Linked DNA regions of Homo sapiens: region 1 is linked to region 2. A link means that fine-mapping ties the variant in region 2 to the plasma level of a protein whose gene starts in the linked region. Region 2 holds a variant in brackets. A gene starts in the other region. All regions are shown on their reverse strands. Region 1 holds the start of LECT2 (leukocyte cell derived chemotaxin 2). Region 2 holds the start of PLG (plasminogen).

What was found. PIP is the chance, under the fine-mapping model, that this variant and not a neighbour inherited with it causes the effect. Protein levels are from antibody-based Olink assays in UK Biobank. Linkage for the fine-mapping came from a reference panel and not from the study's own genotypes, which makes the PIPs less certain.
Region 1: LECT2 starts here. The variant in region 2 is fine-mapped to the plasma level of the LECT2 protein (UK Biobank, PIP 0.99).

Annotation. Positions count from the first base shown.
Region 1 is chr5:135,950,054-135,959,724 of GRCh38, reverse strand. It overlaps LECT2 (leukocyte cell derived chemotaxin 2), which reads left to right and starts at 4,742. Exons shown (of 4, transcript NM_002302.3): 1 at 4,742-4,937; 2 at 6,758-6,854; 3 at 8,357-8,502. The coding sequence starts at 4,892.
Region 2 is chr6:160,700,461-160,710,131 of GRCh38, reverse strand. It overlaps PLG (plasminogen), which reads right to left and starts at 7,888. Exons shown (of 19, transcript NM_000301.5): 1 at 7,779-7,888; 2 at 3,590-3,725; 3 at 2,326-2,432. The coding sequence starts at 7,827. The variant A/G (reference allele first, on the strand shown) is at 5,710.

The sequences.
Region 1 (9,671 bases), not on the chromosome of region 2:
CAAAGCTGAATGAGTGACAATAGTTAGGAAGAGCTGTGTCGGTCAGGCACAATCTTTCCAAGCAGAGCAGCCTGTTCATCTTATTTATGTATGGATTTGGGAAGCTGGGAGTTCGGGGGTTTGTGAACTTTCGGAATGTTAGAGGTTTGACGGATTAAAAGACATGGTGCTCAGGTAAGACTGTTGTTGATTGGCTGGGAATCACTTACTAGAGTGAGTCTGTCCCTAATTGGCTGAAAGTCAGAAGCAAGGGGCTGTTATTGATTGGTTGTTTTGAAGAGCATGTTTACCAGACGTGGGTTGTCATTGACTGATTAAAGGGTTTAAAATATAGGTGGCTAAATATTACCAAGGTTACAGAAAAATCAGTTTTTCCTTGCTGTATGGGAACTTTTTTATGTTCAAAAGATATTGCCAACAAATTAATTGTCCAACAAATGTCTTTATTTAACTTGTTGCTATGGGAAAACTTTCAAATATAAACAAACTGGAGAGGATAGTATAGTAAACTTCTGCGTACTCATTACCCAGCTTCAGTAATTAGCAGTTCATAGCCAATTGTGTTTAATCTATATGCTACCTACTCTCCTAACTCCTGGATTATTTTGAAGCAAATCTGAAACATCCTATGATTTCATACCCATAAATGTTTCAGTATGTATTTCTAAAAGATAGGAACTTTTTACAAACACCTAATGTATTATGCTTAAAATTACACAGAATAATTTCTAATATCATCAAGTAGTGTTAAAATTGTCCCTATTCTCTGTTTCTCTCTGTCTATCATTTCCTCATTTGATTCAGACTCCAAGTAAAGTCCATACACGGCATTTTGTTGATAAATCTTGTAAATCTCTTCTAATCCACAGATTGCCCCTCTCTCTATTTTCCTTTCCTCAGAATTTATTTGTTGAAGAAACCAGGTTCTTTATCTGGTAGAACTTCCTACAGCCTGCATTTGTCTGACTGCATTCTTGTGGTACATTTAACATGCATCCCTGTGCTGCATAGTTCCTGTAAACTGAAAGTTAGAGCTAATGGCCTTATAAGACTTTAGCCTGATTTTTTGACAAGAATACTTTATAGGTTGTGTTGTGCATTTCCAACAGGAGGTATAAAATGTCTGATATACTCTCTCCTTCTCTCTCTTCTTAACAATACGATTGATTAGGTATCATCAGCCTGATCCATCCATTACAAAGTTTCTCATCAGCTTTTCAGCATTGATGACATTGCTCAGATCCTATCCCATTACGGGTTTCAAAAGAGTCTCCTACCATCTCTTCTGCAGTTTAGAGGACGGCACTGGCTTCAGAGGGGAAGATACATTGGAAACAGTTAATGCAGAAGGCAGGGAAAATAGGAGGAAAGCAGGCCACAGGTAGGAAAACAATAGCATTGCTGGAGCAAAGGTTTTGTGCATTTAAAAATGTGAGGGGTATTGCAAAATTGTACTCTAAAGAGGTTAAACCAACTTACACTTTTCAATAAATGTTTCTACATACCTTTGTCAATTTGATGGGTGAAAAACTACACCTCATTCTGGTTTACAATTGTTAATTTTAAGTGAAGTGGATCATATTTTCAAATACATATTGGTAATCTGTATTTTTTCTTTTAGGAAAGTCTGCTGCTATCTTTTGCCCATTTTTCTTTTTTTTTTCTTTTGAGACGGAGTCTTGCTCTTGTTGCCCAGGCTGGAATGCAATGGCACAATCTCGGCTCACTGCAAACTCCGCCTCCCAGGTTCAAGCGATTCTCCTGCCTCAGCCTCCCAAGAAGCTGAGATTACAGGTGTCTGTCACCACATCTGGCTAATTTTTGTATTTCTAGTAGAGATGGGGTTTCGCCATGTTGGCCAGGCTGGTCTCGAACTCCTGACCTCGTGATCCGCCTGCCTCGGCCTCCCAAAGTGCTGGGATTACAGGTGTGAGCCACCGCGCCTGGCCTTTGCCCATTTTTCTATCAATTTGTTTACACCTTTTATTTTTTTAAAGAATTCTTTATATATTAGGGAGATGAGTTCCTTATCTGTCATATTATATGGGTTATAGATATTTTTTTCAGATTATTATCTTTTGACTCTGATCAGGATACTGTTGGCTTTGTAGAAAGTTTTTTTTATTATTGTTATAACGCATTTATCAAATATTTCCTTCAGCACTTCTGGGTTTTTTAACATTCTTTGAAAAGTCCAACCCATACCAAGACCATTAAAAATCATTCATAATTTCTCCTAGTATTTCTATGGTTTCAGTTCATTTCTTTTCTTTCTTTCCTCCTCCTCCCTCTTTCTCTCCTTTTGCATACAAATGTTTGGTTCACTTTGATATGGATTGAACTTTTATTTATTTATTTATTTTGAGACAGGGTCTCACTATCTTACCCAGGGTGGAGTGCAGTGGCATGATCGTAGCTCACTGTAACTTCAAACTCCTGGATTCAAATATTCCTTCTGCCTCAGCCTCCCAAGTAGCTAGGACTGCGTACACACACACCATGCCTGACTAAGTTTTAAAAATGTTTTGTAGGAATGGGGTTTTGCTATGTTGCCTAGGCTCGTCTCGATCTCCTGGCCTCAAGTGATCCTCCCGCACAGGCCTCACAAAGTGCTAGGATTACATGCATGAGCCACCACGCCTAGACTGCACTTTTATTTCTTGCCAGTTGTTGTCTCAATACAGTTAATAGAATGACTTATATTTCCTCTAATCATTTAAAGTATGACTTCTATTGTATACTACATGCTGTATATATTTGTGCCTATTTCTGAATCATCTGTTTTGTTTCACTAACCTATTCTTTCAGTACATTGACTCAGATCCTTGATGTATTCAATGCGTTGGCATTCTATATTGTATACATTAGATGCCTCCTTGAAAGGTTGTGTGTGAAGCAAAAACAATTAGGTGCATAATCTCATTGGCATCGTTTAGTTATTGTTGTGTGACATACCACACCAAAACTCAGTGGCTTCCAATGACAGCCAGTTAAGCCCATACATTCATAGGGTATACTAAGCTGGATTTTGTAGGGGCAACTGTGCTCTGCATGGCATCCATTCCCTTCCCAGGGCAGCAGGATCATCTGCCTCACGGCGATGTAGAAACACAGGAAGGAGTGTGCAAAGACTAAGGCCCCAGAAGACCCAGGCTTTCCCGACCCACTGCCACTTCTGCCTCATCTTAGTGGTCAAAGCTACACAGCTAAACCCAAAATCAAGGGTGAGGAAAGTTCCCTTTGCCCCCATGAAACATGGCAAAGGTGTGGATGCAGAGAGGGTGAAGAACTGGGGCTACAATCCCAATCTCCCACAGCTACTGGCACATAATTTAAATGGGGAAGCTTCCATAGAAAATTCCAGGTGCTCATCTAATATTAAGCTAAAAAGGAGCTGCTAACATATATTTGAAACACACTGAAAATTTAATTCCCCAGAAAAGTACAGGGTAACATAACATCCATGTGTCTATCTCCAATAATTAACAAATTAATATTTTAACATATTTGCTTCTGATTTTTTTCTTTTTTTAGAAATAAAATATTTTAGAGTTTATGTACTCTGTATATCCTTCCACGGTTTTATTTCTCTCACTATCCAGAAGTAATTAGTACCTTAAAGGTAGTCTGTGCATATTTTTATTATACATACAGCATTCATTAAGATTAATATACTTGTTTTCAGATTTTACATATTATAAATAGTATGATACTATATATATAATTCTAAAAATAGCTTTTTAATTCAACAGTATATCTAGAGATCTAGCTGTGTTAATACATGTAGATTGTCTTCATTTAAATTGTTATATTTTACTCTGTTGTATGACTGTATTATTCTGTTCTTGCATTGCTATAAAGAAATACCTGAGATTGGGTAATTTATAAAGAAAAGAGGTACAGAAAGCATGGTAGCTTCTTGGGACGTCTCAGGAAACTGAAAATCATGGCGGAAGGCAAAGGGCAAGCAGGCATGTCTTACACGGCTGAAGCAGGAGGAAGTGAGAACAGGGGAGGTGCTACACACTTTTAAACAACCGGATCTCACCATAACTCACTCACTCACTATCAGGACAACAGCACTAAGGGGATGATGCCAACCCATTCATGAGCACTCTAGCCCCATAATTCAATCACCTCTCACCAGGCCCCACCTCCAACACTGGGGATTACAATTGAACATGAGATTTGGGTGGGGACACAGATCCAAACCATATCAATGACTATATTATAATTAATCTTTTTTCCTTTATTGATGGATGCTTTTAATGGTGTTAACTTACCATTATCATAAACAAGAAAACATTTAAAAATCACATATTTAAGGTGAATACATGCAATTTTATTAAAATATTAAAGTTATTTGCAAATATTACACAGGTGAAATATAATTAAACTGAGAATTCAAAAACACCTAAGGGATATATTAAGGAATATGTTATGAAGGGCTACACATTATTAATGACCAATTTTCTTCTGAAATATGTGCTATCAAGGAAATAAAAGAAAGATCTACCAGCAGGCAGCACTAAATATTCCATCATTCGCACGAACATTCTCCTACAAGCCACAGCCCAGAAGACTGTCGATATGCACCTAGCCTTATCATTTTCTGTTAATATTTAGTCAGTATTTCCAATATAATTGGCTTCTTCTTCAGATCAAAGGCTTTTACATAGGCCCTACCTGCAAATCAAATAGCTATCCATGGAATATTAGAACTTGACTTGCTCCATCCTCTTAAACTTTTTGTGTCTCACACTAAAGAAATGAGAGATGCAGAATTCTAAGGCTAAATAGCTAGGAAGTATTCATTCAAACTTGAATATTCTTCAAAGAGAGTGTGGGGGCAACTCTAATCAGAGGAAGAAACTAAAGGAAGTAAAACCAGATGTTTTCCACCAAAGCCCTCCTTTTGGCTGGTCTGATTTCTACCGGTAAGTCGAAAGTGCAATTTTAGAATATTGATTAACTTTTAAAAACTGATTTCAGGGGAAGACTAAAAAGATTAAAAAGTCATTAATAGCATGATCACAACAAAGACTTGTGTATTTGGCTATTAAAAATGAAATAGGAATGACACATGGTCCTGAGGATGTTTTAAGTAATTTAAATGGAATGTTCCGGTTCTTTAATGAGGGAAACATAATAGTGGGTTGAGAAGACATTACAAAGCCTTTCAGTCTGAGTCTGGGTCTGGGACTTAACTAGAACAAAACTAGATAATAAAAAGTTGATATAAATATTTGATTCTGATTTTGATCAAAATCAAATTCTGATACAGATACTAATACAGAGACTGGTATGGATTAAGACAAAGGGATGGCTCCCTTAATACTCACCGAAGGAGGAAAAAGTGAATAAATTACTACACTGTCTGATATTTGCCTCAATTCCCAAGGATAAATATTAGTTGCCAAAGTGATGGGATTATATCTTGATCAAGGTGTTGATTTGGAGCTTGGCTCCAAGGCATAAAACTTTTGAAACCCACCTTTTAAAAGTATTTTAAAGAAGAGGCTTAATGGCCATATTCTGTAGGTTCTCTTCACAGGATAGGTATTAATGAAGAGTAAAATGTCTTTAAATAAAATCAATAGTCAAATTACCAGGCTCTCGCTTTTGCTTGTTTGTTTCAAAGTGCAAGGTTGAGTGTGCTCACTGTATCTCTCTGTGAATGTTAACACTGGAAATCCAGGACATTTAATTCCATTGAACATTTATTAAGTGCTTACTATAGTAAAGAAACAAATTGTGCCTGAAACAAAGTTTGCACCAAGTCTGCTGAGAAAGCAGCCCCTCCTCCACGTTTCATAATTTTTCATATAATTGGTTCTACTCCTTCTCCTACCTTCACCCCTAATCTCAGTCTAGGCTAAATTGGTTTGACATTTCAGATTATTTTTAAGAATCTCCCTCTTCCATGTTGGCAACTATGAGAGATTTATCTAGTGTTAAACAAACTTGGCTAGTACAGAGTTCGTTTCTCCTTTAATTCAAACATTTGCTTGGATTTGATTAGTGGAACTAACCATTTCAAAATTACAATTTCTAAAATTATTTTCTGAGCCATGCTATTTTATTATTTTTGCTTAATCTAAAAATAATGATCCCCATGGCAGATAATGAGCAAAGAAAAATAGAAAAGCACAACTTATACCATTTACTAATGGATCTGAAGCAAAGTATAATGATGGAGGCCAATGCTTATAAAGAAACACATTCAGCTGGGCGCAGTGGCTCACGCCTGTAATCCCTGCACTTTGGGAGGCTGAGGCAGGCAGATCACGAGGTCAAGAGATCAAGACCGTCCTGACCAACATGGTGAAACTCCGTCTCTACTAAAAATACAAAAATTAGCTGGGTGTGGTGGTGCGCACCTGTAGTCCCAGCTACTCAGGCGGCTGGGGAAGGAGAATCACTTGAACCCAGGAGATGGAGGTTGAAGTCAGCTGAGATCACGCCACTGTGCTCCAGCTTGGCAACAGAGTGAGACTCCGATCCAAAAAAAAAAAAAATTGTATTCACTGATACTCTAACGTCACAAAGCAGAATTCTGTGGCCAGGGAAAAAGCCAATTTTACATCTGAATCAGGAAATAAAATTCTGGAAGGACGATCTTCCCATAAATACATAAAGTCCAGGGAAAACTACAGTGAAAACAGAATTGTCAGGATCAACTGTGTGACTGATAAGGCAAATGGGGATAGGAAATGTCTGAGGCCAGGAGCTCTGCTCTCACTTTTCTCCTTTTTAGCACTGGCAGGGCCATGGGCTAATATATGTGCTGGCAAGTCTTCCAATGAGATCCGGACGTGTGACCGCCATGGCTGTGGACAGTACTCTGCTCAAAGGTATGAAGTTGCACAACCACCCACCCAACCCTTTGGTCCCTAACCTCTTTTCTTAGTGTCCTTGCCCAACGTTGGTTGCCTCAAGGGCTCACAGTTCTGACAGCATGAAAAACCAGAGATGTAACCAGTTACATCACTGTCTTTGGAGCAGCTTCCAAGAACTCTGCTTCAAGTATGAGCTATAAATTGGGATCAGAATGTGGAAGAAGGAAAAGATCAGGGAGCAAACACAATGTTTTCCTTCTGAATGTCTTCACACATTCACTTATCTCAACTGTTTTTTTCCAAAGGGTTATTAAACACAACTATCCCATTTTATAGAAGAGAAACTTTAACTGAGGTACCAAAGGGTTAAGGGACCTGCCAAGCACAGTTGGAGATGGTGAAGCCTGGACCTGAATTCAGGCTTTTGGTTCCTCTTCCCACCAAACCACGCGGTTACTGGCTCAGGCTCTGGATGTTGAATATTAGAGGCTGGCCCTAAGCAGGAGAGAAAGCACCACTATCTCTTCCAGAAAATGAGGGTCACACTTGTGAATTTTCAGTTATACCCAACATCACCTTGGGGTGCCACTTTCTAATGAAATAGCCATGTGTCCAGTCATATCACTGATCTCCATCCTAACTAGAGGGGAACTCTCACATATACAGATACTACTTACAAAGCAACCTCAAATACTGAAACAGGACTAAGAGAAGGGAAATATGGGAAACGTCCCTTGAATTGCCAAAATTCAGACTCAGCTTATACTGCAAAGTTTATGCACTTGATTGATACAGTAAATTCTTGGCTCTTGAGCTTGCTCAGTGTTGCTTTGTACATAATTGCAGCAATCCTGGTGAACCTGATCGTTCAGGTGACAGCCTATTAGAAGGTAGGGGAGGCTGGTGAGAGCAGGCATAGTGACAGCAGCGGGAAGCAAGAGCTGAGGGGTTGCTAAGACGAACTCAAGGCACGTCACAATCTAGAATAGTTTGATTTGGGCTCCATGCACTTTAATAAACCCAGGAGGTATCACTCATTGTATTAAAATACCATATACAGTAAGTGACGTTTACAATCACTTTTCTAGATCACTGCAAGAAAAATAAGACTAGGGTAACATGTGATACTTTTATGATAGGTTCCCATAAAAAGACAGCTGTTTTCAAAGTGGGCTTGAAGATGTCAAGATCTAGGTATCTAGAAAATGCACTTACATGGACTGCCTCATTCCCCCAACATGCCATAAAATAATAGTAGCTAATATTTGCTTAAGGCTTATTATGTACCAAGTACCATTTTAAATGCTTTCATCTTTATGATATGGTTATTAGCACCTGCGGGGAGGGAGGTTAAAATTGGGCTAAACAGAGTGAGGCATCCTGGGACATCCCAACATGTTCTGGCAGCTTCAAGCTTTGGTACCTCGTCTGCAAACAGTGGGCTAACACCATGTTCCCAGGCAGTAAAGCTCCCCTAAGGCAGTTCCTCAGTCTGTTCGTTCTTATTTACATCCTAGAAGTCAGAGGCCTCACCAGGGTGTGGACATCTTGTGCTCTGCTGGATCTACTGTGTACGCACCATTCACTGGAATGATTGTGGGCCAGGAGAAACCTTATCAAAACAAGAATGCTATCAATAATGGTGTTCGAATATCTGGAAGAGGTAAGAGAGGTGGAGTCTACACCTGGGGTGCCTCCTGGAGATGTTGATGCTCATTTATTTAATGCAGGTTCCATACGTAGAGATTTTGTACTTCTTTCAAAATGATAAAACCTGGAACAGAAAGAATATAGAGTGTACCCAAACTAGCTGATGCATTTTTTAAAAAACTTTTATTTTAGGTTCAGGGGTACATGTGCACATTTGTTATATAGGTAAACCACATGTCACAGACATTTGGTGTACAGATTATTTTGTCACCCAGGTAATAAGCATAGTACCCGATAGATATTTTTTTCTGATCCTCTCCCAGCTGAGGCACTTTCAAGGACGTTTCACCATTTTCTCTGAAAACTTCTGCTTCATGCACACACTTCACGAAACCCCACAGCTGATTGGAGGCATTCCTTCCTGTGGCCCATGTGGTTTTGCTTAACAATCTATAAACAAAGCCACTTTCAGCAATGCTAACCATAATGGATAGATACTTGCATTTACTCAAATCCCACAAATCATAAATGCTGGCACTTCTGCAAGAGTTGAATGTGAAATATTTTTGAAAGCTTCTAAGTTTTAGGTAAAGCTAGATCTCCTGGTACTCCAGGTATTGGTTTTGTTGTTTGGTTACTCCATCAAGGTATAAATACACACATAAAAGTGCACAACACATCCATGTATAGCTCCGTGAATTTCAAAAAGTGAACACACCTGTGTAATCAGCACCCAAATCAAGAAAAAGAACATCACCCACATCCCAGAGATCCCTTGTGCTACCACTTAGTCATTATTCCCAGCAAGATAATCACTATCTCAAGTTCTAACACCATGTATTAGTTCTTCCTGTTTCTAAAAATGGTATAAATAGAATTAAACAGCATGCACTCTTTGGGTCTTCTTTCATTCCACATCGTGATTATGCAGTTTATGTTTTTGTATCCACGTTCTTTCTGATGCATGATATTCCATTATATGCGTATACTTTCATCTATTTATCTATTCTTCCTCAGATGGACTTTTGGGCAGTTTCCAGTTTAAGATGATTATAAAATTGCTGCTACGAACTTCCTTATACCTTTTAATGAACATATATATGCATTCCTATTGGGAGTGAGTCCAGAGGAGACCCTCCTCACCAAGCCTGTGAGAGGCATCTTTTGAGCGAACCCACATCC
Region 2 (9,671 bases):
TAAAGGTTTTACACATTCAGATTGATTAATAAATGTCGAGATATGGTCCACTTCAAAAATAAGGAAAGTAATTATTGTAGATGTTGCACTGGAGCATAGTTTATGCAGGAAATACACCAGAGACCTTCTACTGGTGACCCCATATTCGAAGAAGAAAAGCCTCTGCTCTACGTCAAAAGGTGTCAAGTACACTTGTGTTTTCAATGAAAATATAAAATGTTTAAGGTATATTTACACCATCATTTAAGGTTACCCACTTTAGCCATTTTTTAATTAATTGATCAATCACATGGGGAAAGTGCTCCTAACATACCTACAGCAAACTAATGCTTTTAACCCAATACTGCGTATTATGATTGCAAGTACATCTTCATTGGGACATAGTATTACAGTAGACATAAGACACTCATCAAAAGTGTAAACTCAAGGTACTTTGTGAAAGGGAGGTCTAGGGGTCAAGGAAGATTTGCAAAGGACATGATGATTGAGCTGACACCTAGGAGATAAGAAGGAGCTGGCACAGCAGGACAAAGGTGAAGAGGGTCCCAGGCAGGAGGGTGTGTGCTTGGGGTGGTGAAGGAACAGAAGTAAGGCCAGTGTAGAAAAGTTTAGCAAGCCAAGCAAACAGCAGCTGGGGGTTACTTAAATAATGCTGGGCCCTAGCACATTTGGGAAGTCTTTGGGTCTTATTTTAAGGGCACTAGGAAGGGCTTTAAACAGGGAAGTTACATTTCTTAGAGATCATGTGTACAGCTACAAGTAGCCCCAACCAGTGGTGATAGGGTCTTGGACTTGGTGAAGGCAGTGTGGCTGGTGGCAAGTGGCAGAAGTAAATGTGATCTAACACTGACTGTTCCTGGCAAAACCCTGGCAGGTAAGTTAGTAGCAGGTCAATATCCCACAGCAAAGAAACAAGGACCAAAAAATGACTGACTTTTGACTTTTCACTTCTTTTTTTTTTGTATGTACCCATCAGAGTTTATATAACCTTTTGCTCCCTTCTGTCACTTTGAAAACAAGCAAACTAAGCCTTCAAACTTCAGACTTCAAACTCAACCTACAGTCATTCCCATGTTCCTTCTGGTTAACAATTTACAAATGACATATTTAAATGTTAGCATTTTGTAGAGAGAATCAGGAGAATCAGGGTTTTTTTTTTTTAAAATCTGGTACAATTAGGTGATCCTATTTAGTTTACCGTTTGCTTGCTACTTGTAAGAACTAATAACTTCACCAGATAAAGTTTAGATTTAATCTGCACTTTAATCTCAAGAATTCGAGATAAATAGTGGTAAGGAAGGAAGTACAATGCGTACAGCTAATGAAACCCAGGAAGATGAGTCAATGCATAGAAATAATTCCAACCCAAATAAATACTATTTAAAATGCTACTTAGAGTTTTGCCGTAATACTAGACACAATATGGCAAATCATCCTCAAGAATACAAGAACTAAGGTGTTTCCAGTCCTCTTTAACACCTGGGATGCAGAATGTTTGGAGAGCTAAATTGTTACTATTAACAGTCTTAATACCTGGCTACCAACACAGTAGAGGAAACAGTTTTTAAAGTGTCATGCATCCCTTCAAATATTTATACTTGATGGGATATGCTTAATGGGAGCATACTTGATGGGATATACTTGATGGGAAATGCTTAATGAAACATTTGCACATCTAAAAAGGCATGCAATTTCTATTGAAATCCTGTCTGCCTCTTATTCTAAGCAGTGGGACTATTGACCCACATTTTAAAATAAACTATAGAAAAGGAACTGTAACTTTTACACATTTTTAAAAGACAACATTTCAGAAATCTGAGAAAAATATAGACCATGTCCCCCAAAATGTGAAAAATTTAAGAGTAAAAATAAGATTTGTGTCCCAATCTAAATGTTTCTGAGGATTAAAACACCTCAGTATTTCTGTTTTACAAGGCTTCATCCAGATGTTAGGGCCCAAGGACCATGGTCACCCTGCAGAATAAGAAGCCAAGACCAAAAGGAATGCTTAGACTTCCCATCTCCTTGTTAAATATAAAATAATATTTTAAAAATCTTATTTTCAGGGTCATAGAGGTAGAAGTGATTTTGTAAATCTAATCCTTTCATCTTTTGAACAAAAAAAATTAAATCTAAGAGGTGAAGTAATACACTCAAGCTGACATGGTTAGTTAGTAATCAAATCCTGTCCTAACTCAGAATTCAGTTTTATAACACGATAGTGCCTTCCTCCTCTGGTCTTATAAATTAAAGATAGAATAGAGAAAGAGGAAGAGTGGGAGGATGGGGAGGACAGTAGGAGGAGGAGGAAGAAAATGTACTCACCTTTCTTTTCAAATAAAACTACATCTCTCATCCTAATGATTATGGAGGACTTCCTGTTTTCAGCCATTATCACACATTGTTGCTCTTTACTGTGATATTGGAATGCCCTGCAGAACGAAGCAGGAAATCCAATAAGTATTTTTCTTTATTTAAAGAAAACAAATGTTTATTAATAAGTGAGACATGCTAAAGATCATTGAATATCTTGAGGGACCAGAGAGCTCAGAATTGCTGCCTCTTTCAGTTATTTGGGCATGGCATCGATGAAGTACTGAACAAAATACACCAACGTGGCAGCAAATCTTATCTGCCCTTACCTTCCCTCCCTCATAATTTTCCCTTTCTTCCTGTTTCAACTGCTTTACTTCTTCTTCACTCATCTTCTTAATTTTTGTTTTTGGGTTGGAAAGAAGCAACTCTGGTTGCTTTGAACCCATTCGCCAAGATAGTCCGTCTCCATGACCTCCCAACTCTGATCAGTTCCCCTGAACCTCTGCTCCACATTCCACCCCACCCTGGCCCCTGACCCCTCCCATCTCCATCCCGTGGTCCTGCTATGGGTGCTCAGTCTGGATTCCATAGCTACCTTCCCAAGCCCGTCACCTACACAAAGTCTCTGCTTTAGTCAACTTCATCTCTTAATGGTCCCCCTCAGAAGGTGCAGGGCCGCATCTTCCCCTGCCTTCCTGGTGCTTGTCAAGAGCTCTCTCAACTCCAAACCCAGCTCAGTTCCCACCTCCTCCCTGAGCCTTCTCTAGCTGCCTCAACCTTAGGCACTGTTCTTTCTTCTGGATCTGGGTAGAGCATGCATTGATTATGCCTGTACCTCACTTGGGCTGTCTTTTTTTTTTTTTTAACATTATATCCAGTTTCTTTGACTACACCTTAAATACTAAAGGGCAGGCACTGGATCTTGTAGCTATAAGTCATTGCTCAGATCTATCTAGGACACTTTCATTCACCTGATCCTCAACAAACATTTACTGATGATGATGTTGAAAACTGGAGCTCAGAACAATAACTGCTAATGTTTGTGTCCGGTGTAAAAACAAATAACTTCCTTTGAGGGTATTTTTCTAACAAAGACTCCAATAAACCTTAACAAGAAGCTGTTAGTATGGCTTCACATACTGTGAGCAAATATAGTTCCAAACTCTGGCTCCATAAATTTCTCTTTCCTCTTAAATCATTAATAAATTTGTGAGTAAATTACTTGCCATCTGAATTACAGATTCCTGCGTAGGTGCAACGACAATGGAAATACCTGCAGGTGAATTCTTCGTCCTCCTCACATTTTGCTGCACATTCTTCTATACTTCCTGCTCCCAGCTGCTTCTTAGTGACACTGAACAGTGAAGCCCCCTGGGTATTCACATAGTCATCCAGAGGCTCTCCTTGACCTAGAGGTGGGAGATCCAAGTGGAATAAATGGTCAGTAAATCAATGTCAATGTCTAATTGTCATGACTTCCTTTTAATCTATTTGGTTAGCATTAACCAAATAAAACTTTCTGTTTACTGGAAGTAGAATGGGTAGCTATGAATCAAAATGTTTAGTTAAGAACACACAGTCGGGCATTTGGACATAAATAAAGATGGCAACTAAAGACACTGGGGACTACCAGAGAAGGGAGAGAGGGAGCAAGGCAAGGGCTGAAAAACTACCTATTTAGTAGGTATTTAGCTCACTACCTGGGTGATGGGATCATTTGTACCCCAAAGCTCAGTGTCACGCAATTTAGTTATGTAACACACCTGCACATGTACCCCTGACTCTAAAAGTTGAAATTATAAAACAAAGAAAAACAGTTTCATTAGCAGATTGCAAGATAGTAAAAGATTAACTGGATTGACAAACAGGTTAGAACTATGGAACCACTACTATGTTACCATATTAGTGGATATAAATCCTTAAACAAGAACAAATTTTATGTTTGCTATTGATTGTGCCATGTCATGAGAGAAGAGTAAGGCACCATCAGTGGCAGTTGTGTTACCAAGATTGATGTTGATTTGTTCATCCCTGGGTAGAAATGGAACTTGGAGGCCATTGTTTGATTTCCTACAATATGCGCTTTGGTTCTGGCACTGTCACTTGAACCGGTGGGAAGCATCCTCTGAATGGTCCCTCCTTGAGAAACATAAATTTTGGTGCATAGATGATGGTGGAAATAAACAAGAACTGAACTAAATTATGTTGCCACCTTGGACAAAAATTGGGCAAAACACTGGAGGGTAAGAAGCTCCCCAACAAAGAAGGCCATTTTTGTACTGGGCTTATGACAGTCACACAACACTACTAATTGGGGAGAAGTCAGTTTTTCCAAGGTGTTGACAGGTATCTGGATTTCGGAGGAAATTGTAAAAAAGCAGGACCTGGGACAAATACTGGTCTTGGTTTTTCTTTGAGATCAAATCTGAGACAACGAATCTGTCCGAAAGCTGCTTTCTGCCTGGTCGTGGCAGAGGGTGGCCAAGGGGGCCTCAGCTGTGCTCCCACCACAAGGCTACAGGGTGTCCCCTTGTCCTGAGGCTCTTCCAGACATCTGGCTGAGCTTTGGTAGCTCTATTCCAAGCCTGGAGATGCCAGCTCCGTCCTTGGCACAGAATGCTAGTGATTTGCACAAGGGTGAGAGGCCAAAAGAGGCTAATAAAATGAAGACAGGCAAGCTCCATGGAATTAGACAACAGGACAACCTTGACCACTTTGAGGGGCGTGGTGGGGGCCGCAGGCAGAGGGGGTGGGTTACAGAGTGACTAGGAGAGCAGTGGAGGCTGCAGCAGGAGACAAGCCTGGCTCTGAAGACAGCGAGCCCTCCAGGGAACATGCGGTCAGGGGAGGTTCTGAAAGATGACACACTGCAGAGCGCATTGGTTTGTATGCTGATGACAAGTATCCAGTAGGAAAGCAAATGAACAGATTTTCATTCTCAGAAAGGCCTGTCCTGACCTCCTGAGGGTACACAGAGCACAAGGGGCAGGACAGGGAGGTGGATGCATGCTCATCGATTCATGCAAAGTCCTCGGCCAAAGTCCCCCTGCTCCCCACCTCTGGGACTTTGTCCTTCCTCAATTTAAGACATTCCGGGCTGGAAAAATGGATTATTGAGCAGGAGTTGGCTGATGCATTCTAAAGCTAATCCACTAAAAAGCACTTGAGAGATATATCAAAAGATCACAAAGAAATAGATGCTTTAGGCCCATATCCATGTCTTTACCCCGCACTTTCTGCCAACTTGAACTCTCATTTTCAAGAAGAGTTGTGTTTTGGTTAATTCTATATAGCTCACAGTGTGACTTCAAAACACACAATAAATCCACAAAGTGTGTCCTACAGTGAGTTCAGTTAAACTTTCTGAAGAGTTTTTTTGAAGTATAGCAGAGC[A/G]GGCTACAACTGATATTCAAAAAAAGAAAACTTCCATTTATTTCCCCCTTCAATTAAGTTCTCTGTGTTATGTTACTATGCTTCATAGCGCATCGCTGCTGAGATCCCCTCCCCAGCTCATGTCCCTAGGAAATATCCCAAAACAGAATCAAACTTTTCTCTTTTCAGTTTGAAATAATTTTCCCCCATTTTTTCTTCTCTTATTCACCTCTAGGACTCATATGGCAATAGGATTTGATAGGGCTTATTTGCTGGCAAGGAAACATCAAACAAATCTTTTAGTGGAAAAATACATTTATATTATAGGCAAAATGCAGATGTATATTGCTACTGATGCAAATGTATTTTATTAATGGTGTGAGAATTTCTTCCTCACTGTGGTGTGTGAATGTGTATGCATATTTGCATGTGTAAAAGACTTAATTTGTGAAATGGAAGATGTTTCTCCACTTCCCACTAAGCATGGCTGTAAAAGAAACTTTTCCCTCTCCCCGGGCATTGCAGCACACTGGAAAGATGATACATCCACAGAAAACCTGGCTTTCCAAAAGAGCTTATGAGAGAATGTGCCCACCAGGTGGGTTAAAACATATGTTAATCCTGTGGCAGAGAAGTTTGATCTAGCCTTTGGGTGTAGCCCACTGAATAAGTTCATAGTGATCTATGTCCTAGTTTCCATGCATTGAAATATAATATTCATACCCCCCAACATACACCAATTTCTTACAAAAATTTCTTTAATTTTCTCCTGCTCTGTATTTTCTTTGATAGCTCCTTGAATGGCTTCCACTAAATTCAAATGTATTTGACTCTAAAGTGCAACTTGTAAAATTTTATCTGGTAATTTATAGATTGAATTTCAAGCGTACATTATTTACATGAAGAACTACTAGCAAATCGTATGATTCCGTTTGTATGAAATGTTCAAAATGGCAAAGATATAAATACAGAAAGTAGATTAGTGGTTGCCAGAAGCTGCAGATTGGGGGTAACAGCTAAGGAGAGTGGAGTGCGTTTTTGGGGGTATGAATAGTTTTAAAATTTATTCTGATGGTGGCTGCACAACTCTCAATATCTTGAAATCCATTGGATTGTATGCCTAAATGGGTGAATTCTATATGTTAATTATATCTCAATAAAGCTTTTTTTTTTTTAAAGAAAAAGAAGTACTAGGACATGTTTAGAATATTCTTTCAAAGGCTTAAACAAAGCTGAAAAGTGAGAAGAGCCCTAGATTCCTTCTGGGAAACCTGGCTTAAATCCAGTTTTCTTTATTTCCCAGATCTGAGAATTTGGTCACTGAGCAAATAACATGATATTCCTAAGTCTGATTTCTTTGTTTATAAAATGAGGATGAATATGCTACCCTACCTATACCACGAGCTAAATAAGCTAGTATTTGTAAAGGATACACACTCACACTCACATTCACACACAGGTATGTATGTATGTGTAAAAATGTAGGGACCTAACCCAAGCAACTGAGTATTTGTTGATCACTATCTGCACACAGCATCTGGCAAATGGATGCGTGTGATTTTTCCGGGGATAAGAGGCAAACGTATACTGATGGAAAGCCTTCCTCAGGCCATAACAAAGGGAGAAATGCTGAGTCCCCGACCCTGCCGCCACCATGAACTGGTGAGAGAACGGAATATATTCAAAGAGATATTTCACTGTTTTAACTTGCAAGTGAGGGGAGCATGACACCGTAACAGAGATGATATAAATTAGTCAAACTGAGAACCAGGCAAAGAGCTTAGCCGTCCTTTGCATAATTAGCTACATTGGCTCTTTTTCAATTAGACTGGCCATTATGTGGGTGCACTCATTTAGATTTGAAAAATCACCCATTATTTTCTCTGCCCATTCATTCCAGCACCCTGACAATCTTCACAGGAAACTTAAACTTATTTCTTGAAGAATTCCTCAATCTTATACAAGATTTTCAACTGGAAGTTTCATGAATCAAAAATTAAATGAATTGCACATAAAGCCATGGCATATGTATTTTTACTACATTGTGGGAGAAAAAATAATTCTTATAATTTAAAAAAACTATGTCTTACCTGATTTCAGAAATAAAAGAAGTAGAAGAACCACTTCCTTATGTTCCATTTTGGGACTGGCCAGCAGTGCCCAGAAAGTGGGTCCCAATCCCAGGATGTTGTTGACTTACATGAGAGTAAACGCATCCACAAACCAGATAGTCAAATTAAGTTAATGATTCTCTCAGAGACCCATGCCACTGGCTCAGCAGGGTTCAAACATTACCTTGAATAAAGAGTCCTTACAACATGTTTGAGGGTGGAATCTGCAATAGATGCTGGGAAGTGGTGAAAGCAATCTCCCCCCTCGGCTGCTCCACGCTGCCGTCATGTCTCCTTATTCCTTCCCTCACCCTTGTACTTTATCTCTCGCAATTAGTCTTATTTCCTCCCCTCTTCTCTTATTCCCTTTCTTTTGGAGAAAATGAAATCATAAAAGTATCTCACATTTGCTGGAACCTTCCATGACGAGACCCTCTGCCAAGCGCTGCACGTCCATAGCCTCCCTCAAGCTTCCCAACAGGCAGGGCTGTTCTCATTCCTGCTGTACGAGGGATGGGGCTGAGGCCTTCCCCAAGGTTGTGTCTCTACCCAGGGGTGCAGCTGATAGACAAAACCCCTTCAGGTCTTAGATGACAAACTTAAGTTAGGTGTAAACGTTAATATCTCTACATCCTACACCAAATGACATAGAAATTACGACATAAGTGAAAGTATCTTATTATCTTCAAAATTTATTTATTCCCAGTGAACTCACATGTTTTCTGTAATTATAAATTATGTTATAAGACATCAATCTTTCCCCCAAATGAACGTATGCCATATTATTATATTCTCATTCTCATGAAATAAAGCAAGACTGGTAGCATTAAGTGGAAAGCGTCTATCTCAATTTTAAATGTTGAATCTGTACTTTTCCCTGGCTTAAGTCTAGAGCAACCAGGTAGTATATATGCTGTAAAACTTCTATTTTAGTGTTCAAAGATATTTAGGAATAAATCAATTGACCTCTCTATTTTAGATGTGAAATAAGGACCAGAAAGCATTGTTCCTCTTTCCAGGCAGTGAAATTCCTGCCTATTCATTAACTGGCAAAAGAGTAGAGGTGGGAGCCCAATGGTCTTGGGTGGAATGTCCTGCGGAATTCCCTGGGATTGAGGAACCATGCAGAACCCTCAAGAAGAAGCCACACTGGGCAACAAGAGGGTGGCCCCATGTGAGGGACAGGGGGACCGAATCGCTTTTCCTGATTTCCTATTTTAGCCTCACTCTCTTCTCTCCTCAAATTCTTACCACTCCCTTTATCCTCTCTGACTCACCTCATGGCCCAGTTCATTAAAGGGGACAGAAGGTGGAGGCAGATTGAGAAACCAGCAGTGGGCAGACATTTTATTTTTAATGTGAAATGTCTCTTAGGGGGCTCATGTTGATGTGCTTGAGAAAGTACTCTGGGAAAAAAAAATACTCTACTAATATATAATGCTTCCAGCATGTATTTATTTCCACTTAAAATATTATTGTAGCAGTTCCTCTTGGATAAGGCACCTTGGGAATGATGTTATCAGAAATTCTACATCCACATAATTTTCTTTTCCTGTTGTTTTGGTTTTGACTTGGGTGGTGTTGGTATAGCTTTTGCCCACCTTTCCCCTGGTAGTTGTTGGATGCATTAAATTCTACAAATGTGATTTTATAAATTAGTTGCCCTCCTAATGGCCTCCTGGCTGTACATTCTTCCCTACCTTCATAATCCATCAGCATCGTGAAAGCACAGAGGGACGTTGAGCAGAGCTCTGTGCTGGCGCCACCGCACTCTGTAGCCTGTAAGAGAGCAGCAAAGAGGAATGTGTTGCTCAGGTATAGACGGGGGTGGGTGCATAGAGACTTCCGCTGCGGCATGGCCCTTCATGTCCA